Regions from separate parts of the Homo sapiens genome. Here all the other regions are reported to be linked to region 1. Evidence: microRNA targets listed by miRTarBase, many of them from high-throughput screens and not tested one by one. Region 1 holds a microRNA gene; each other region holds the end of a gene's coding sequence.

What was found. The annotated mature microRNA hsa-miR-1233-3p reads UGAGCCCUGUCCUCCCGCAG and lies in region 1 at 1,827-1,846, shown strand. An mRNA with a match to its seed (bases 2 to 7 or 8) in the 3' UTR can be bound and repressed. Matches are read on the target gene's strand: a 7mer-m8 pairs with bases 2 to 8, a 7mer-A1 pairs with bases 2 to 7 and ends in A, and an 8mer does both.
Region 2: miRTarBase lists SGPP2 as a target of hsa-miR-1233-3p. Seed matches in the 3' UTR shown: 7mer-A1 at 1,103-1,109.
Region 3: miRTarBase lists KIF6 as a target of hsa-miR-1233-3p. Seed matches in the 3' UTR shown: 7mer-A1 at 2,878-2,884, 7mer-A1 at 2,909-2,915 and 7mer-m8 at 6,489-6,495.

Annotation. Positions count from the first base shown.
Region 1 is chr15:34,376,797-34,383,914 of GRCh38, reverse strand. MIR1233-1 (microRNA 1233-1) reads left to right here and starts at 1,765; the gene lies at 1,765-1,846. GOLGA8A (golgin A8 family member A) reads left to right here. Exons shown (of 25, transcript NM_181077.5): 18 at 62-169; 19 at 387-474; 20 at 862-1,118; 21 at 1,386-1,529; 22 at 1,664-1,764; 23 at 1,847-1,947; 24 at 2,059-2,214; 25 at 2,302-4,847. The coding sequence ends at 2,504.
Region 2 is chr2:222,558,453-222,565,570 of GRCh38, forward strand. It overlaps SGPP2 (sphingosine-1-phosphate phosphatase 2), which reads left to right. Exons shown (of 5, transcript NM_152386.4): 5 at 1-4,169. The coding sequence ends at 446. Among named protein-coding and RNA genes, the nearest start is that of FARSB, 94 kb to the right of the region's middle.
Region 3 is chr6:39,330,295-39,337,412 of GRCh38, reverse strand. It overlaps KIF6 (kinesin family member 6), which reads left to right. Exons shown (of 23, transcript NM_145027.6): 23 at 865-7,118. The coding sequence ends at 881. The region is part of intron 1 of LOC105375047 (a long non-coding RNA gene); the gene reads right to left. Among named protein-coding and RNA genes, the nearest start is that of KCNK16, 11 kb to the right of the region's middle. RefSeq lists an enhancer at 1,171-1,250.

The DNA of each region.
Region 1 (7,118 bases):
TGGCCAGGAGCAGGTGAGGACCAGTGACGGCCCTTCCTAACTTGTGTGGCCATTCTTGCAGTTGAAGGAGTCGCTTAAAGAAGTCCAGCTGGAGAGAGATCAATATGCTGAACAAATAAAAGGAGAGAGGGCCCAGTGGCAGCAGAGGATGAGGAAAATGTCGCAGGAGGTGAGATCTGACCCTTCAGCCTCCCGCCCCACCCCCCCCCCACCAACAACTTAAGATAGGTCACTGGATCTTTCTGGGCCTCTTTAAAATGGGAATAGTGCAGCCAGAGGTGGTCCTGGGTCTGGGCTTTGTGGAGGTGGGGGCAGAGAGGGAGATGGGAGCCTGTCCAGCCACCAGCCCCTCTCTCCAGGGCCCTTTCCCCCTGTGCTTTGGGCAGGTTTGCACATTGAAGGAGGAGAAGAAGCATGATACGCATCGGGTAGAGGAGCTGGAGAGGAGCTTGTCCAGACTCAAAAACCAGATGGGTAAGATGGGGCTGGCATGACCTGGGAGCAGGACTGGCATCAGAGGGCTGTGGGGGTGGCTTAGAGTGCCCCAGGGAGGTGGGTGGATGGCAGGGCTTTGAGGCAGAGGGAAAGAGGTCTGTGCCAGGAGACAAGTCTTGTCATCTCCCTGAGCCTCAGTGTCCCCATGAGCAAAGAGGGCCCGTTGTCAGCCACCCGCAGTGCTCTCTATCTGAAAGTGGTTTGGAAGACTGGCTACCATCCGGGTGCGAGGGATCGTTAGCAGTGAAGCCAAGTTTGGGAGCCTGAGAGGAGCTGTGCGCCAACAGGAGGGTGTTTTGTTGTTTTTTCTGTTTTGATTTTTGTTTTGAGAATCCAGAGGCCCTTATGATCTGCTTCCTTTCTCAGCTGAGCCACTGCCCCCGGATGCCCCAGCAGTGTCCTCTGAGGTGGAGCTGCAAGACCTGAGGAAGGAGCTGGAGAGAGTGGCAGGAGAGCTCCAGGCTCAGGTGGAAAACAATCAGTGCATCAGTCTCCTGAACCGTGGGCAAAAGGAGAGGCTTCGCGAGCAGGAGGAGAGGCTTCAGGAGCAGCAGGAGAGGCTTCGGGAACGGGAGAAGAGGCTTCAGCAGCTGGCCGAGCCACAGAGCGACTTGGAGGAGCTGGTGGGTTGCCCCACCTGGGGAGCCTGCCCTCCTCCCTAGCCCTCCAGGCCTTTGTTTCCCCACCTGTAAAATGGGGCAGTGTAGCCCTCACATGAAATATTACTTCCAAAGGCACCTGTGAGCCAGAGCTTTGCTCTGGTGGCTGTGGGAGAGAGGAGAGTATTTTTCTAACTTGGCTCCACCCTTCCCGGTGCCATGGGAGGCAGACACCAAGTTCTGGGGTCTCCAGCTGCAGTGGGTGGCTGCTGATTGCTTCTCTCTGTCCAGAAGCACGAGAACAAGAGCGCACTGCAGTTGGAGCAGCAAGTAAAGGAGCTGCAGGAGAAGCTGGGCCAGGTGATGGAGACGCTCACCTCGGCCGAGAAGGAGCCAGAGGCAGCAGTCCCAGCCTCAGGGACTGGGGGCGAGTCTGTGAGTGGGGAGACCCTCCGGGCCCTGCAGGAAGTCATGGAGAAGCTGGAGGGGAGTGAGTCCTAGCATGGGCCAAGAAGGGCAGGGCTGGGGCAGGTCGCTGCTGAGATGTGACCCCATTATTTTGGCTCCAGAGCGGCCTTATGGACCTCCTGGAGGAGAAGGCGGACCTGAGGGAGCATGTGGAGAAACTGGAACTTGGATTCATCCAGTACCGGAGAGAGAGATGCCATCAGTGAGTGGGAGGCCAGGGCACGGCAGGGGGAGCTGCAGGGCTATGGGAGGGGCCCCAGCGTCTGAGCCCTGTCCTCCCGCAGGAAAGTACATCGCCTTCTAACAGAGCCAGGGGACAGTGCCAAAGATGCGTCACCGGGAGGAGGCCATCATCAGGCTGGCCCAGGACAAGGAGGAGAGGAAGGTAGGGTGTGCAACATCCCTGTGGGGGTGGGGGTGGGGTGGGGGTGTGGGTGGGGTGGGCATGAGGGTGGGCGCCAGCAGCGGCCTGACAGCTGAGCACCCGTCCCTTCAGGTGAAGCTGCTGGAGCTGCAGGAGATGGTGTTGCGGCTTGTGGCAGCTACAGCGAGGGGCACGGCAAATTCCTGGCCGCTGCCCGGAACCCTGCTGCTGAACCCAGTCCAGGAGCCCCAGCCCCCCAGGAGCTCGGGGCTGCCGACAAGCATGGTGGTGAGTAGAGCCCCCAGGCGGGGTGAGCAGGCAGGAGCGGGGGGCGGCTAGCACTCCACTCAGATCCCCGCCTCCCTCTCTCCAAAGATCTTTGTGAGGCGAGCCTCACCAACAGCGTGGAGCCTGCACAAGGAGAAGCCAGGGAGGGTTCTTCCCAGGACAACCCTACTGCACAGCCAGTCGTGCAGCTCCTTGGTGAGATGCAGGACCACCAGGAGCACCCAGGCTTGGGCAGCAACTGCTGTGTGCCATGCTTTTGCTGGGCTTGGCTGCCGAGAAGAAGGAGATAAACACCACCATCATCAAAGAGCTGCTCAAGAAATTTTTAAAAACGAAACAAAGTTATGGGGTTAATCTCCTACACAATTCATTTACTTCATTTGAATGTTAGAGCTACTCATGATTATTTGTGTTTCTAATTTATAGTTTAAGTTTATTTGTAAAAAGTTAAAAGAGAGTGGGTCTCTGTGGCTCTCACTGATGTTCACTCTGGCATCCTTCAGCATTTTTCTTTTTTCATTTCATAATTGTAGGTCATTAGCATGCATATCGAGTTTGCCCTTACGTGGTGGGAGTTCAAACACACAAAGACCCACTCTTTGCACAAAACTGTTCTCGCTGGTTTGGAATAGGCTCCCGTGCTTTTCTAATGTTATTGCAGCATGGATGTCCATTACAGAATTCAGATAAAATTTGCTAATGTTCTGCTATGATGTTTGATCTCATCTTAATCACAGTGAGCTCTTCTATAGCTCAATATGCGGTTTGCCCTCAAGTGTGCACTGTTTATTACTTTGTAATATGCCACTGTGAGTACTGACATTTAGAGCTGTTTAAAGGCCGAGAACTGGAAACAGCCTTTCCTCCATTTTCTGTGTATTGGTGATGGGAGTGATAACCTTTTGGGGGAGCTTTCTAAATCTCACAGAAGAGGAAAGTGGCCTGCTCTGGCAGGTATGTGCAGGATACAGTGTGTTTCATCTGTTCCGGTGCCAAGAATGAGCAGTGTACTGTGGCAGTTCCCTTTGGATTTGTATGTGCTCTGGGCTCATGAAGATATTGCATCGTGAGCTGCAGCAGTTGCACTCTTTTTCAGTGACCTAAAAAGGGCTTATTTCCGAGGAATGAAAGGCTGCCATCATTGGCTGTGGGTGTGAAAAACCTTTCCTAGCTTAGAGCATTTGTATCTACAATACATTTTAAAGTCAGAGTTCGTGTTCCCTGTTTTAATCACATGACTACCTGTCCCAGTACACGAAAGGGCGCTGGTTGGCATTCTTCTTAATGTATTTAGTGAAGATCATAAGAAATCCTTTAAGAGTTTAAATGTCTCTGAAACAGGCATACAGGCTCTAGTCAAGAATGAATTAGAGTGAAGGAAAGCTGTGTGACACCTGGCATTCCTCTCTGTTCATGGAGCTTCTTTGAGGCTTGAAGTTTGATTTTACTATCTAGACCTCTCTGGCTAATACCTATTCTTCAACCACCTCGGTTACTCTGACATAGGAATTTACTTCTTTTCCTTGAGTGGAAAACACTTTAGAAAGTAATAACAAACATTATTATAAACTAATATATGTGAGAGTACTTAGTTGAAACAAAAAGGAATTTTAGTAGACAGTATTATATTATCTTTGAAAATCAAGGAGAAGTTTATGCAACTTAAAATGTTTACACACTGTGGTGCAATCTACTGTTTGTGAATGTCTGTATTATCAGGAAACATGTCTATACGATCGCAGAGTTGTATTTCCTCACAAACTTCTTTACGAAGAGTGAAATACGTTTTTGTACCTCTCATTTTCAGTCAGGGACATACTTTGTGCAATATTTCTGTGATTGTGCCTATGCATGATGAATGAATGCATTTCAATCATACATTGCCTAAATCATAACTTGATGATGCTTGGGAAAGAATCAACAGTTAAAACTTCATGAAGTTCTAATGTCTGTGTTCCAAAACACATCACATTATTAGGTTGTAGGGAGATATGTAGGTGTGCTCCCTGGGGTGGGGAGTTTTCTAGTTACTAGACCATCTCCATTTTTAGCACTTGGCAGCCTCATGATCCTTTTATAAATGTGAGATTAACAGGAGAGCAGCAATACGATTTTGCCAATGGAATAACAGATTTGCCGGCATTCACTGAAAGAGGGCAGATATTGGGTCCTTGTAACTTCAACTGACTCTTCCAAATTGTATGAATTTATCAATGTATTACACAAATCCAGTTTCAGAATGATAAAAAATGTTAGACCAAATAATGCGGCTAATTAACAGTCGTATGATTTCTAGCCCATGGGTTTAAAACTGTATCTTAAAGAGTCATTTTAAAATAATATAAATATTAAAAAATGTAACTGCTATCTTAATGTTCTGAAATAAAACATTTTAAAATATAAATCCTGTAGTTTAAAAGGAAGAAATGGTGGGAAGGAAAAGTAGAGAAAGAAATGCCAATTCCAGGCCAAAGCGTTATTTGCCAAGTTTTCTTAGAATGAATTTTACCAATGTATGAGTTCTTGTTAACAGAATGTGTAACGGAAATACTGAAAGACTTTTGCTTAAAGTGGCATTATTGACTGCTGATGTGATGCTACTGTAATGCAATAAATTTTTAAATTGTTGCAAAGTGCTGTTTTTGCCTTAAAATTTTATTTTGCGTGTCTTGAAAACTATAGTATTAAAAGTATTGATATTGTGCAAATACTGGGCATGCTTGGCATGAGATAATCTGTTTCATTGTTACAAAAATGTAGTATAACTATGCAAGTGTTTATTGAAAGAACACAACATAAAAAAGGTATGGGATTAAAAAAGTTTTGGGGTGAAAAAGTTATCGGATAAAAATGTAAAAAAGTTGTGGCAAAAAGTAGAAAAAAGTTTTCTGAAAAGTTATCATGGAGCACGGTGGCTCAAGCCTGTAATCCCAGCACTTTGGGAGGCCGAGGTGGGCAGATCACCTGAGGTCAGGAGTTCGAGACCAGCCTGGCCAACAGAGTGAAACTCCGTCTCTACTAAAAATACAAAAATTAGCTGGGTGTGGTGGTGGGTGCCTGTAATTCCAGCTACTCAGGAGGCCGAGGCAGGAGAATTGCTTGAACCTGGGAGGTGGAGGTTGCAATGAGTCAAGAGTGCCACTGCACTCCAGCCTGGGTGACAAAAGCAAAAACTCCGTCTCAAAAAAGAAAAAAAAAAGTAAAGGAGTAAAGAATGGCTACTCCAAAGACAAAGCAGCGGCATCAGCTGCTCAACTGATTATACTTAGTTACTTCTTGATTATATGCTAAAAAGAAAAGTGGGGTACAATGATCTTCCAACCAGGAGTTTCAACATGTGGTCTCTGGGCAAGATGAAACAGCAGACAGTTGGCTCTGAGTAACAGAAAAGATAGAAAAGAGAAAGGAGAAAAGGGGAGAAAAGCATTGTCTGTGGCAGGGTACATAGCTCCGGGAGGCCAGAGAAAGACCCACCCATTGCAGCGACGCTGAATCAAAAGTTCAGGCACCTGCTTTTCAGTAATGAAGGGAGCTCTTCCAACAGTCCCATCAGCTCTCATCTTTCCCACTTTAGGGAGAAAAATGCTCCCACATCTGGTGATCCTGTACATGCCTAATCCTGTCACCCACAGCCATCAGCAAACAGTGCAAGGCAGATTAATCCAAAGAGAATAGCAGATAACATCCCATAATTCCAAATCCATTTTTAACCAAGAGGGACTTTACTGAGAGGGACCTCTAACCTGTAACCCCCTGAATCTTAGGAAGGGCTCTAACCTTCCTAAGTTGGGCCTCTAACCCAAGTTTGGTCAAGTGTCCTTGCCTTTTATTAAGGAGGCCTTTAACTCTGTCTTAGTAGGGACTCTAACCCTCCTAAGTTGGGCCTCTAACCCAATTCCATCCTTTACCCACGTTAAATGTACCCCTCCTCTTACTCAAAGTCGGCCAATTGGTATTGCTGTTTTCTTTGGGTCAGAGGTTTCCTCAATATTGTCCCTTCGTGGTTCAACCAGAAGACATTACCAGAAAGGGATCCTGATCCAGACCCCAAGAGAGGGCTTTTGGATCTCACCCAAGCAAGAATTCAGGGTGAGTCCATAGACTAAAGTGAAAGCAAGTTTATTAAGAAAGTAAAGGAATGAAGAATGGCTACTCCATAGACAGAGCAGCAGCATGGGCTGCTCAACTGATTATACTTATAGTTACTTCTTGATTATATGTTAAACAAGGGGTGGATTATAAGTTTTCTGGGGAAGAGGTGGGCAATTTGTGGAAATGAGGGTTCCTCCCGTTTTTAGACCATATAGGATAACTTCCTGACATTGCCATGGCATCTGTAAACTGTCATGTGCTGGTGAGTGTCTCTTTTAGCATGCTAATCCATTGTAATTAGTGTATAATGAGCAGTGAGGACAACCAGAGGTCACTTTTGTTGCCACCTTGGTTTTGGTGGGTTTTGTCCATCTTCTTTACCATACCCTTTTGTCAACAAGGTCTTTGTGACGTGTACCTTATGCTGACCTTCTATCTCATCCTGTGACCAAGAATACCTATCCACCTGGGAATGCAGCCCAGTAGTTGTTAGCCTTATTTTACCCAGCCCCTATTCAAGATGGAGTCACTCTGGTTCAAACTCCTCTGATAATACAATGAAGTAACAACCAGGGAAGGAGTGGCAAGAAGCAAGGACATTGCAGGACACACAAAAGATGAGGAAAACAAATGATAAAAGAATAGAGGTTATTGATGAAAAGGTCAAACTCTATAAAATATTTGAAGAGATTTATTCTGAGCCAGATATGAGTGACCAATGGCCCATGAGACAGCCGCAGTAGATCTAGAGAACATGTGCCCAGGATAGTTGGGCTACAGCTGGGTTTTATACATTTCAGGGAAACATAAGA
Region 2 (7,118 bases), not on the chromosome of region 1:
GTGTCATAGTTGTGCCATTCTTCCTGTGTTACAATTACCCTGTTTCTGATTACTACAGCCCAACCCGGGCGGACACCACCACCATTCTGGCTGCCGGGGCTGGAGTGACCATAGGATTCTGGATCAACCATTTCTTCCAGCTTGTATCCAAGCCCGCTGAATCTCTCCCTGTTATTCAGAACATCCCACCACTCACCACCTACATGTTAGTTTTGGGTCTGACCAAATTTGCAGTGGGAATTGTGTTGATCCTCTTGGTTCGTCAGCTTGTACAAAATCTCTCACTGCAAGTATTATACTCATGGTTCAAGGTGGTCACCAGGAACAAGGAGGCCAGGCGGAGACTGGAGATTGAAGTGCCTTACAAGTTTGTTACCTACACATCTGTTGGCATCTGCGCTACAACCTTTGTGCCGATGCTTCACAGGTTTCTGGGATTACCCTGAGTCTCAAACAGTTGGAAACTAGCCCACTGGACATGAAAGCCAAGACATAGGAAAGTTATTGGTAGGCAAATCTTGACAACTTATTTTTCTTTAACAACAACAAAAAGTCATACGGCTGTCTTGCTACTACCAGATAAATGATGCTGCTGTGTGAAAGGAAGAACTGTCTCATAGCGGTCATTGGTCGTCCGTGGTGGTTGGTTGTGCTACAGTTGAACCCAGGCTAAAGACCATAATCCGGATCTTTAAAGGCACACACCGCGCCCCCCCCCCCCCCGCCCGGCCCCTGCTCCTCTCGCTGTTGCACGGGCTTTGGATCTAGTCATGGGCTGGCAGGAATTGTGGCCTGGCTTAGGAATAGCTATGAGCCCCACTGGGTTCTGGAGAGCCAGTAGAGATGGGGTGATCTGGGAGGCTGGAGGTAGAGCCTTTCTTTTCCGTTACAACCTTGCCTAGCATGGAGTTATTTCTAAAATGGGAACTTTGGTCTAGGAGAAGGGGTGGCACCATATGAAACGGCATTCCTTGGACAGGGTGACTTCCTTATCGTTTATTTGGTGATTTTTTGTTTTGTTTTGTTTGAGACAGGATCTTGCTCTGTTTCCCAGGCTGTATTACAGTGGCACAATCTCAGCTCACTGCAAACTCTGCCTCCCGGGCTCAAGCAATCCTCCTGCCTGAGCCAACTGAGTAGCTGGGACTGTAAGCATAGACCACCATGTGCCCAGCTAATTTTTGTAGAGACAGGGTTTCTCCATGTTGCCCAGGTACGTCTGAAACTCCTGGGCTTAAGTGATCCACCCACCTCAGCCTCCCAAAGTGCTGGGATTATAGGCATGAGCCACTGTGCCCGGCCTCCTCCTTGTTATGATCAAATTAGACTGTGCCTGGTTGGGTGGTAAGATCACTCTGAAAGAAAGCTCACTGTGAAGAGATGAAAGGTGGAGGCAGAGCTGTGAGGTCATGGGGAAAAGCCTGCTTTCCTTATAAGTCCTGCTGTTCATGTTGGAATAAGGATCTGCTCTTCCTTGTTTCCATGCATTTTGCAGGATTCCAGGTACCATTACCACACTCTTCTGACCCATGAAACCAACTGGCTGCTCACACATCACCAAACAGGTTGGGGGTTAGCCTTCAGCACAGGTGGATACATCTGGGATTCACTGAGATTCCTGCCCTCTCCTGCTTCCTAGTGGTTTGGGACAGGCCCTCTGCCCATCGTCAGCAGTTTTTTGCTTTCATACAAACCTGGAAGGCACTGGCATCTGCCTAGGAAAGTGGATCTGTGAAGAACAGATGAACTCAATCCTTTCTGGAGTCTGACAAAGAAGGGATAGGCTTCCTTGACATTGCCTGTCCTGACAAGGCCTCCCTGACATTACTCCTCCAATTTCACAGTTACCTTCTGTAAATCTATTTTCTCATCTACTGAATAGAATCAGGCGCCCTTTTTGTCTTCCCACCTCTTATCTCTTGGCAATTTTAAGGGGAATTAATGCAAGAACAACTTTAGTGTCTCTTGGGAAAACAAGCCAACCAAATACAAAACCCATTAAGCCTACTAGGGTGAGTCCTCTTAACATGGGAAGGCGATGATTATGCAAACACCGGAGTTCCCTCCTCTTCAGTTCCTAAGAATAAAGAACAGGTATCAAGAACTTTCTTTAAAGTTAGTGTAACTATAGTTAACAAAGTATCCATTGAAGTTTAGTGCCTGTAGGACTGAGCCAGTGCTTTATCAACCCAACACATCATCACCATGTGCATACTCTAGAAAAAAAAATAGCTTCCTTAAAAGTTACAGAGGCTCTTAACGTGTTAAAACCGAAAAATCACATTTTTCTTGATTTCAAATATGTTCTACGGCCTTACTGTTGGGATGATATTTAGTATGTAACTTAGCATTCCAATTTCTCAAGAATTTTTAGGCCGGGTGCGGTGGCTCATGCCTGTAATCCCAGCACTTTGGGAGGCCGAGGTGGGCGGACCACGAGGTCAGGAGATCGAGACCATCCTGGCTAACACGGTACCCCGTCTCTACTGAAAATACAAAAAAATTAGCCGGACGTGGTGGAGGGCGCCTGTAGTCCCAGCTACTCAGGAGGCTGAGGCAGGAGAATGGCGTGAACCCGGTGAGCGGAGCTTGCAGTGAGCCGAGATTGCGCCACTGCACTCCAGCCTGGGCGACAGAGCGAGACTCTCTCAAAAAAAAAAAAAAAGAATTTTTAGCAAAACATCCTGTTTTTACTTAAAATTCTTCTCATATTTATTATAGTTAGAAGGCAAAGATCAAGATGACCTGCCGTTTGACTGCTTTTACATCAAACTCTGCCCAGTATTTGCAGCACAACTCAGGGGAAGGGCCTTAGCTTACAGGTACTCCCAGCCTTCATCTGCCCCTGCAGAGCAGTGGCTGTCAGCCGGATGCGGCACTTTTCTGTATTTTCATCCACACAGCTGCCCAGCCAGAGTTCGCAACACTGGATATTTACACCAAATAATTGTGGTTGACTTGTCTGAAGCCAGCTGACAAAAGGATCAGCTTTTCCCACTTGTATTTTTTAAAAAGAGGGATTGTGATCATTGTCACAGAGTGGGTGCTGGCCTCTCATATATATGATATATATATATCATTTTATATATATATATATATCATATACATAATTTTTACTGCTGTCTCTAGTTTTAAGTCCCAACAATAGGAAGGCCGATCAGCTATATTGATATATTTAAGGCTGTACTTAACTAATTTGGGCTGAGGATGAATATATCAGCCACAGCACATTAAAGAATGAGCCAAGGATTTGTCATGGTTGGTCACTTTTTAAAGTATTTGATTACTGCAACTGGAGAATGAAAAGTGTATATTGGTGACGCCAACCTCAGTTTCTGAGCACTCCTGCTCTGTGGTGAGAATCAGACAAAAATTCATCGGGGTGAAAAAGGCATTACCTGATTCACACCCTTGTCTTGCTAGCCCTCTTCCATTCATTTCTCACACAGCACTTTGCTCTGTTAAATCCTCTCTCTGTCTCAGACCATTGCTTGCCCCTTCAAAGGGTATGGTTCAGGCTCCTTTCAAGACATTTGGAGTTTCTCTCTGGGGAAAGAGAGCCCCCTACTGGTTTGGCTTCAGTCTAGGTCCACCATCCCTCTCGATCTGGCATCTTGGAGATTAATTTAAAAGGCAAGCTCACCACAATGTAAGCCTATGGTCTGGCCAACCTTGCTTTTGGGAACTGTGACACCAAAGCCCCCAGGACTATCTGCCTCTCCAGGAGCCAGATAGAATGACATGCCTTTTTCCTAATTGTCCACATTCCACCCCCAACCCACTGCCACTGTGGGCCAAGCCATCCATCTTGCAATCTTCATCTAAAACAGCTCTCATTTCATGCCAGTTTTGCTCAAACCTGCACCGTCACAAGATATTCAGAAGATGAAAACGTAGAAGACACCCCTGAATTAAAAACACTTACATAGCAGTGGCTGGAATTACTCCAAAACGTGCCCAGTGATCGCACTGTAACATGGGATTTTCTCACCCAAATAGGCAACTCATGCTTCCTGAGTGTAATCAAAGCATGTGGTGTTTTGGGGCCATATGCACCAGGTTTCTATTTTAGAAACCTTCAGCTGTCTTGCTTATGTACTGTATGTAAATTTATTCTTTTTAAAAATCACTTTTATTTGATTTTGACTTATTAAATGCTTTAAAAGCCAGTGTTCTGTTTCCTTGCATTTTTTTCTTAACGTAGATCTTTTTCTCTGAATTCATTGGACCTGAGTTGAAAAGGGGACAAAAATAAGAGGCAGGCTACATAATTCTCTGTTCTTGTCATAATCCAATCATGTGCAAATGTTGGAGAGCCTTGGAGGACCCACAGGTGTGGTAACAAGAAAGAAGTGGCATGTTGGCATCCTTAAATCCCCTCCTCTACTCCATGATACTAAAGAACCTCCTTTTACTTTATATGGAGTTAAATGTCACTATGTTTTGAAAGGTAAATGTTGTAAGTTTTGCTAGTTAAGGTAAGTAAAAGGTTTTTAGAGATGCGTTCTCTATCTGCTGAACCAAATAAACATAACCGTCATTCAAATTCACAGTGTATCACTGCAATGATGTGGTCTGCCTTTAAGCATCCCAAATTTGCTATTTGAGATGGTACATACAGTTGACACTGCCCCTTATTTGCAAGGGCAGACCTAGGACTCTATTTGTACTTTGAGCAGGACATATGAGATGTAAAGCTCCAACCTATCCTGTGCAGTTTTCGCAGGACAGAGAAGACACAGGGGCAGAGAATTACAATTCAGGAGCCAAATGGTTAAGGCTGTAGGGAAGAGAAAACAACGACATGGGAACTGGGAGGAGGGGTAGACTGCATGAGCGAGGTTTAGAGAACAGATGGGGTTTGCACAGGGAATGTGACGGGAAGTAGGTAGGAGATGGTACTCCATGGCTAGAGAACAGCGTGTCTGAGGCACTTCCCAAACACCTCCAGCTCTTACAAGAAAAAAAACCAGACCACGTTGGTGATCGTAAGAATAACAGTGGTGGTGGTGGTGGTGAAATAAAGGATGAGCATAGGGCTGTGACACCGCAAAATCAAACCACACGAACAAGAAGTGTGAGAAGGCCCTCCCAGAGGGGGTGACGTCCAGAGGTGACTTCACAGACTCCTTTCATCACTCCTCATTCAAATACAGTTGCCCCTTGAACAACTCGGAGCTCAGGGGTGCCAACCTCCTATGCAGTAAAAATGCATATAACTTATGACTCCCCCAAAACTTAACTACTAATAGTCTGCTGTCAATGGGAAGCCTTTCTGATAGCACAATCAGTAGATTACCACATATCTTATGTTATAGGCATTATATATTGTATTCTTACAATAAAGTAAACTGGAGAAAAGAAAATGTTAAGAAAATTGTAAGGAAAATACATTTACCCTTCATTAAGTGGAAGGGGATCATCGCAAAAGTCTTCATCCTCATCTTCATGTTGAGGAGGCTGAGGAGGAGGAAGAGAGGGAAGAGGAGGGGTTGTTCTTACTGTGTCAGGGGTGGCAGAGGCAGGAGAAAATCCACATACCACTGAATGTGTACAGTTCAAACCCATCTTGTCCAAGGGTTAACTGTACTCACCAGTCAGCCCGAGCACCTTCCCCGTCTGCCATCTCTGCACGCACAGCGTCATTCCCATCCTTCTTGTTCCTCTCTTGGCAGACATGACCAACAGCTGGGACCTCCTTCTGTGTCCTTCATGCCCACTCCCTTCCCCCGTCTTCTCTTTGCTCAGTTCCCTGAACTAGTCATGTGAAACTTCATTTTCAAAATATTTTACCGTGATCCTGGCTCTTCAGAGAACTTCAAAATGCTTCAAAATGCTCCAAGTCTTTCTTTAATGATTGTGAATGAAGCCCTCATCCTCTAGTAAGAAGCTACCCAAGAGCCAAGTGGAATAGCAACATACACATATCTCATTTGAGACAAGAGATGTTTTTTCCTCGAAGCTGCTTGTGTTTTGATTTTTTTAAACTTGAATTTTAACTGCACGTATGGGTTTGCCATTAGAATTCCAGTTAAAATTTGGATTCTTCATTTCTGTGAACATAAGGCTTTAATGGGTGACTCTGTGCACACCATGCATCCATTGTTTTCTTAAAATGAGACACACCTGTAGTACAGACTTGGATATTTACAGAATGCACATTAAGAAGAATCAGAGTTAAATGTAGGCCATGAAGAGAATGCTAAATTCTTAAAACTGTAGCCACGTGAGACAGGGAGCTATACAAAGCCAAAAATAATTCTTCTTTTTCCAAGCCTGTCTATATGGCATGCAAAAAAACCAAGAAAAGTAAGGATGTAGCTAGGAGTTCCACTGTAATGCTTCTTTAACACACGCACTCAACACATCTGCTGGCCTTGCTCTCTGTATGGCAAGCCAGATTCTGCCCAATGCAGGTGTTCAAATGTCAATGCCTCTTTAATATACACAAAGATGGCCTCAGATCATTAGGGGTGAGCCAGGGTGAAAAGTGGGTCCTGCCTTAATGCCCATGCCTGCAAGAGTCTTATAATCTACCTGTATCCATGAGTGCAGATAGGAGTGAAGCCTCTTGGGCTTCCAGTCTGCAATGTCTCTGTCACGTGGAAACCTGATGGGTGCCACTGTGAGTGGGGCCAATTATGCACAGTGCACACTAAACACAGATCATTTTAGCCTTCCTAACTGGCCACTAATAAAAAGACGCTGAAGTATCCTGAAGATCAAAGAGAGATTTCCACCATGCCTCAATACAAACCCCAGTCCGGGCCTCTGCATGACAGGTGTTGTGCCTAGTGTTTTACACAAGTCATCTCACCTACATGATTTGCTTAAGGGGCACCTCTCTGTCTGGCTCTCTTGTCTCATCTGCCCCAACGTCACCCAAGTGCTCCTTGTTTAAATGTTCTGCCCAAGACACACAGCCAAAAAATCTCTAATCCCACCTATCTCCACTGGGGCTTTTTCTCTGACCTTTCCAGCACGAAATGTGACTGTTTATTCCGTGTGTCACAACTGGTTTCTTGTCAGCCCTAAGTAGTTGGTTATTGTAGGGACAGGCATATTTTATTCCTGACAAAAAGCTGTGCCATGTGGAAATCAGAACATTTCTTTTGCTA
Region 3 (7,118 bases), not on the chromosome of region 1:
TGAACCCCGGAGGCAGAGGTTGCAGTGAGCCGAGATTGTGCCACTGCACTCCAGCCTGGGTAACAGAGCAAGACTCCGTCCAGAAAGAAAAGAAAGAAAAAGAAAGAAGGAAGGAAGGAAGGAAGAGGGGAAGGGAGGGGAGGCTGGAGGGAGGGAGGGAAAGAAAAGAAAGAAAAAGAAAGAAAGAAAGAAAGAAAGAAAGAAAGAAAGAAAGAAAGAAAGAAAGAAAGAAAGAAAGAAGGAAGGAAAGAAAGAAAAGAAAGAGAAAGGAAGGAAGGAAGGAGGAAAGAAAGAAAGAAAGAGAAGAAAGAAGAAAGAAAGGAAAGAAGGAAAGAAAGGAAAGAGAAAGAAAGAAAGAAAGAAAAAGGAAGGAAGGAAAAGAAAGGAAGGAAGGGAGGGAGGGAGGGAAGAAAGGAAGGAAAGAAGGGGAGAGAAAGAGAGAAAGAATGAAAGAGAAGAAAGAGAAAGAAAAAGAAAGAAAGAAGAGAAAGGGAAGAAAGGGAAGAAAGGGAAGGAAGGGAAGGAAGGACAGAAGAAAGGAAGGAAGGAAAAGACAAGACTCCAGCCTCGGTGACAGAGCGAGACTCCATCAAAAAAAAGAAAGAAAGAAAAGGAAAGAAAACGGTGGGGTAGGAAAACAGGCGTCAGTCTCAGCCTAGGGAGATGGAGCTTCTGCAAAGGGCAAAGGGGGCCTCTTCCTTCAGAGCTTGGGGTATAAATGCAGCTCCTGGGAGGCAAGACACAGATGCAGTGCCCAAGACCCAGGGGGAGTGGCTGGTGGCCTCCCCTCCCCCCGATTCAATCCTGGGAAAAGTCAGTGTCTGCATGCACAGCCTAACCAAAAGCATCCTGTCTCCCTTTCAGGTTTGGGAAGCAATTGAATTTCCAGGAAATATCCATCCATGAATTATGCCAGCAAGAATGAAGCACAGATGAAGGCAGCGCCCCTCACTTGCTCTGGCTTCAGAAGTGAACTATGGGCTGCTGGGAGCAACTAGTGACTTTGATTCCCATGGAGGGGACTGTGTTTCTTTAAGGATGCTGACCTGGAGGCCACCGAGAGGCTGGGGCTGGGGCTGACCACAACATCCTTCCTGTGGTTGCTGGAGCTGCTGGCAGGGCCAGGCAAGGCCAGAGTGCTAGGGGCAGGGTGAAGGCTTCAGCTCACTGTTGTAGTGACGTTTTGTGTAGATCTTTATAAGCTTTTGAGAATGTGAAATAGCACCATCAAAATATAATGTCAGAGGATGCTCACACCAGTGGAATGTGGGGGGAATATTTTTATTTTTAACGATTTGCCAGCTCTCTCCCTTGGCCCGTGCTCTGGTTTGGAAGCCCAGAAATGGCCATGACAGGTCCAGGCAGGATGTCCCAGCCACAGGCAAGGCAGTGGAATGCAGGGCATCCTGAAGGCCAATCCTGATCTCCCAGACCACATCTTTCACCATCAGCCTCTTGGCCAGGATGACCTGGAGGCAGTGCCTGAACAGCTGTGTCTCCAGGGAGCCATCTGCCCTGCAGGGTCTAAGGACATCATAGCACCCAGAGAACAGTGGGCAGCTCCCAGGGGCTCTGCTGAGAGCTTGAGAGAGGGCAGTGTGGGTACCTTGGGCCTCACAACCTTCACCCAGCCACTTGGGAGGATTTGGGCTGACACTCCCCACTTCCACAGGGAAAAACATAGCTGCCTGGGGGTCTTGTCTCCATGGGCCCTCTCCATGACAGATCCAAGGGAAGGTGGGCAGCCCTCAAGGAGGTTCTTGAAGAACTGCCCCCTGGGCCAGGGGGTTCCAACCCAGCTGCAGCCAGGGAGGGGCAGCGGAGGGTGAGCAGGAGTGGCACCTGGAAATGAAGCTAACTGGATAAAAGTGCTGGTCCACTGCTCCTGGTGTCTCTGTCCTATAAATACAGGACCTGATGACCCTGGAGGGGAGCAGAGTGGTAATATAGTATAATTGGCTTGATTTTCTTTTTCGTTTTTTAGGACTGGGTAACAGGATCATGCAGGAGAAGATTAAACCATTACATTTCTAAGCTAGGCAGGCCCATCGAGCTCCTCTAATCCACACCCCTATTTTATATAATTAGAAGGCCAGAGTGAAGGGGAGATTCAGCTTGCTGTTCTATGCCACTGACAAATGTCCCCTCTTCAGGGGGCTTCCCCTGACCACTCCATCTCGAGTCACCCCCTAGTTATCCCCTATCCCATTACCATTTTTTCTGCATCACTATCTGACATGTTATCCTTCCGAACTTGCCTATTTTTGAAATACCTGCAACCCCCCATAATACTAAGAGCTCCAATGCAACAGGGACCTGTTTGTCTTGCTCATTGCTGTGTCCCAAGCACAGAGTCGCTGTTCAGTAAACGGTCCTTCAGTTCATGAGTAGACGAGCCAGAACCCAGATGTGTTTCTCAGGCTGGTGTCACTCTGACTTCCCCCAGGCTCTGACTGAATCCCATCGGGACAGGGGCCAGCATCTCTGGTCCACTCCTGGCCCTCACAGTTCAATGGAACATAGTAAGCCCTCTGTAAAGTCTGTAGAACCAGAGGAAGACCAAATTCTGATTCTAGAAGCCTCCCCAAGAGTCCATGGAACACACATGTAACTGCACACACACACACACATACACACACACACTCTCAAGAGCCCTGAAGATGGCATGGCATTTGCCCCAGTCCCCTATGTAGCAGCAGCAGTATTCTTGGCATGCCTTAGTGCCCTCAGCCCTCTAGAGCTGGGTAGAGTCTACTAACTTTTATTTTCTTTTATTTTTACTTTCTTTTATTTATTTTTTGAGATGGGGGGGGTCTCTGTCAGCCAGGCTGGGGTGCAGTGGTGCGACCATACCTCACTAGTCAGCCTCCAACTCCTGGGCTCAAGCCATACTCAGCCTCCAACTCCTGGGCTCAAGCGATCCTCTCACCTCAGCCTCCAAAGTAGCTGGAACTACAGGCATGCACCACCACACCTAGCTCGTTTTAAATTTTTTGTAGAGACAGGGTCTCACTGTGTGGCTCAGGATGGTCTCAAATTCCTGGCCTTAAGCGATGCTCCCGCCTTGGCCTCCCAAAGTGCTGGGATTGCAGGCATGAGCCACATACCCTGCCAGAGTCTTTCAACATTAGATCTCCCACTGAGACATCATCTCCTGGATCCAAAGGCCTTACTGACAGAGATGTGTGGCATGGCCCCATGCGGGGTGTGAACCAGCCTCCTGGGGCAATCACTAAGACAGGAAAGGAAATGAAGACAGAAAAACACACAACATGGGATCTGGGGCCACTGGTGTCCAGAGCATATGCAAAGTGTGTGCAGCAACTGGCCAAGGGGCCTTTTGCTCCGAACATCCCCTAATGGAAGCCCAGCCTTTGATATGGACACATGCTTGACAGCAGTGCACCTTCCCAGAGTTCACTGGCCTCTGCAAATGGGAGAAATTGATGCAATGTTTTGAAAAGACTTTCCAGCAATCCACCTGGGATCAGTGGAGCCACGGATGACAAGAAGTATCTGAGTTCACTCTAGGCCAAAATGTGGGATTTTCAAAAACATTTTCTGGAAAGCAGCCTAGCCAGTGACTCCAGCCCAGTCCCTGCTAGAATTCAACTGGCTCTACCAATCCCTTGACAAGAAGTAGGGTGGACGGAGGTTGGAGGAGGGAAGTTAAAATGTAGCTTGCCCAGATCTTGCTAAAAAGGAGTTTTAGAAAGCAGATAGAGAAATTGTGGTATACTGAATACATCATTTTAATTCTTCACCACCAGTATAGAATTACACATCCAAAGCTTTGTCATGGCCCACTTTGACTAATGTGGTGTTGGCAAACCTGATCCAGGCAGAGGCTTGAATTGTGCTCTCATGGTTGAGCTTGCCTCTTGCTCCAGTGATCTCTCTTGGGATGAACATGCCATGGGTAGCTGCTGCCCCTTCAGCCTGGAACATCCAGAGAGCAGACCTGAGCCCAGTCTACAGCCTGGAGCAGAGCCTCCCAGGCAAGCCCAGCCCAGATCAGCTGAACTATGGCTCACCCAAAGACCTATTGGCATGAGAATATATGCTGCTTGTCATAAACCACTGAGGTTTAGAGTGGTTTGTTATATAGCATTAATTGTAGCAATAGCAGACTGGCACAGAAATTGGAACCCAGAGACAGTATATGACTGGATCTAGGATTTCTCAGTGCAGAGTTCATTGTCTCTCCATGCAGCCTGTGGAAAGGCACTGAGAGCATCCTGTATATGGAAAAGCAGGACCACCACCTACAGCCATGATGAAGCAACAAGGACCTGATTTACCCTCCTGCTTTAAATGACTAAAAATGAGACAAAATCCTCTATACAAACCAATGGTTTTCAGCCATTGGATAACAAGCAATATAGGGTATGATTGATCCGCAAGAGAAGGGAAACAAGTGAGGGGAGCCCTATGATTGCTCCAACTTACTGCCTGCAGTGAGTTTTCAGGCTGCAGCCCAGGAAGGGGGAACCAGGTAGAGCCCAGTGGTTTCCCTGAGTTGAGGAAATGGAGCTGGGAATCCAGGGAGGACAAAGTGGCTTAAATTTGCAAGGCAGAGTCCCAGGGATGAGAGAGAGAGAAGGAGAGAGAGAGGAGAAAAAAGAGAGAGAAAGAGAGAGAGCATGCTCTGGAGATCTTCAGAGGGTTACCCTTGAGTCTTCAGCTAACTACCGATCAACATCTGCATGTGAAGAAATTACCCAAGGCAGGGGAAAGAACCACCAGGAGGAAGCAGGTGGAATAATTTCCTGAGATAACACTGTGTTGGGAAGAGTTCATGTTTCCAACAGCCAGAGTGGAGAAACCTCCCAAAACAGTCATTGTATAGAGACACATAAGGTACTGCCTCAGAAGTGGGGCCAAATTAGTCCTAGATGATAGATTGCTCTGGTCCCACCTAACAAAGCTTAAAAAGCCAGCCCCAAAGGAGTCAAATTGTTTCCAGTAAGTTTCCAAGTAACTTCAATGAGTCCCAAAACAAAGCTTCAAAATATCTAAAGGAATATGAAAAACAAACCAAAAAGAAACCAGCATCCAACAATATAGAATCCACAATGTCTGGTGTCCATTAAAAAATAATCAGGCATGCAAAGAAGCAGGAAAATATGGGCCATGAGAGGAGAAAAAACCATCAATAGAAATAGAGGCCGGGTGTGGTGGCTCACTCCTATAATCCCAGCACTTTGGGAGGCCGAGGCAGGAGGATCACCTGAGGTCAGGAGTTCAAGAACAGCCTGTTCAACATGGGGAAACCCCGTCTCTACTAAAAATACAAAAAATAGCCGGGCATGGTGTTGCGTACCTGTAATCCCAGCTACTCAGAGGCTGAGGCAGGAGAATTGCTTGAGCCCAGGAGGCAGAGGTTACAGTGAGCCGAAATTGTGCCATTGCACTCCAGCTTGGGCAACAAGAGTGAAACTCTGTCTCAAAAAAAAAAAAAAGAAAAAACAAATAGAAACAGCCCCAGGCATGGCACAGTTGATAGAGTAAATAGACAGAAACATTTTTTAAAATGCAATGGGTGTGTGTTTCAAATCTAGGCAGAAAAAATGCTCCTTGTAATTCCTTAAACATAAGCATGTCTCATTCATCTGGTCATTGTTTTGACAAGGATGTGCCATCCATTGTGCTAAGTTCTGAGGAGTCAGAGGTGACAGAGACAGAGAAAGTGCCAGCATTCTTGGAACCTTCTAACGAAGGAGAGGGACAAGCCAGGCATGGTGGCTCACGCCTGTAATCCCAACACTTTGGGAGACTGAGGCTGGCGGATCACGAGGTCAGGAGTTTGAGACCAACCTGGCCAACATGGCGAAACCCCATCGCTACTAAAAATACAAAAATTAGCTGGGTGTGGTGGTGCGCACCTGTAATCCCAGCTACTCTGGAGGCTGAGGCAGGACAATCACTTGAACCCTGGAGGCAGAGTTTGCAGTGAGCTGAGATCGTGCCACTGCACTCCAACCTGGGCAACAAGAGCGAGACTCCTTCTCTGAAAAAAAAAAAAAGAGAGGGACAATAAACAAGTAAGCAAGACAATCTGATTAAGAAGGAGTTGGGGTTAGCTGGGCATGGTAGCAAGCGCCTGTAGTCTCAGCTACTCGGGAGGCTGAGGTGGGAGGATCCTTGAACCCAGGAGGTTAAGGCTGCAGTGAGCTGTGATCACACCACTGCACTCCAGCCTGGATGACAGAGCAAGACCCTGTCTCAGAAAAAGAAGAAGGAGTTGGGGGTGGGGTAGGATGGGCTTGGACTCACTATCAAGGTGGGTGGGAGTGTGAGAACCCGGCAAGGTGCAAAGAGAGAAGCAGGGAAGGGAAGCTTAGGACAATGATGGCAGGTTGGGTATTGGGTGATGGGAAGAGGCAAAGGACGTGGAGCTTGGCAAAAAGGGGACTTGTGGGGATTTGGGCCATGTGAGCATGTGGGGGAGACAGTGTTCCTTCCATAACACGTGTCCAGGGACTGCCAGGGCTCCGAGGCAGAGCAGGTGTAGAGAGGTTGGCTGTGAATGTTGGATGTTGAAAACATATGTGTCAAATGTGGGAGGAAAAAGCAGTGTTTCCTTGAATACAAGCTCCTCCTCACCTTGCGAAAAGTGGCCTCTGAGTGTAGCCCTGAATGCATCTCCCAAGGAATAGGAGGAAGCAGCAACCTTTTCAGAGTTAACTGCTTTATTTGGGTTTTCCATGGCCTCGTGCCAGCCAGCAGGGCTGAGCCAGTTTCACCCACACTGAGAGGGAACTCAGCAAAGAGCAAGCAGCATGCCAGCTGGTACTCTTCCCTCTCCATTCACTCAGCTCCTGATCTCAGGAGGGCAGCCCCTCCCCAGGCCAGCACCCCTCCCCTTCTGGCCCCAGGTGTGGGATGTTGTTGTTTTCTTTTCTCCGAAACATCTCCTGGGTTTGTCTTTTCCATCACTGTCTTTAGACTGAGGCAAGCAGTCCCCATGCCTTCAGCCCCATGTTTTGGGGGTAACCTGTGCTTTGACATGCTTTGCTAAAAACTTTCTAAGTCTCCCTCTGGTGCTGGGACCAGCCATGACCAACAACGTCATCCATGCAGGCCACCCCTAACATAGTCCAGGCCTCATGTGGGTC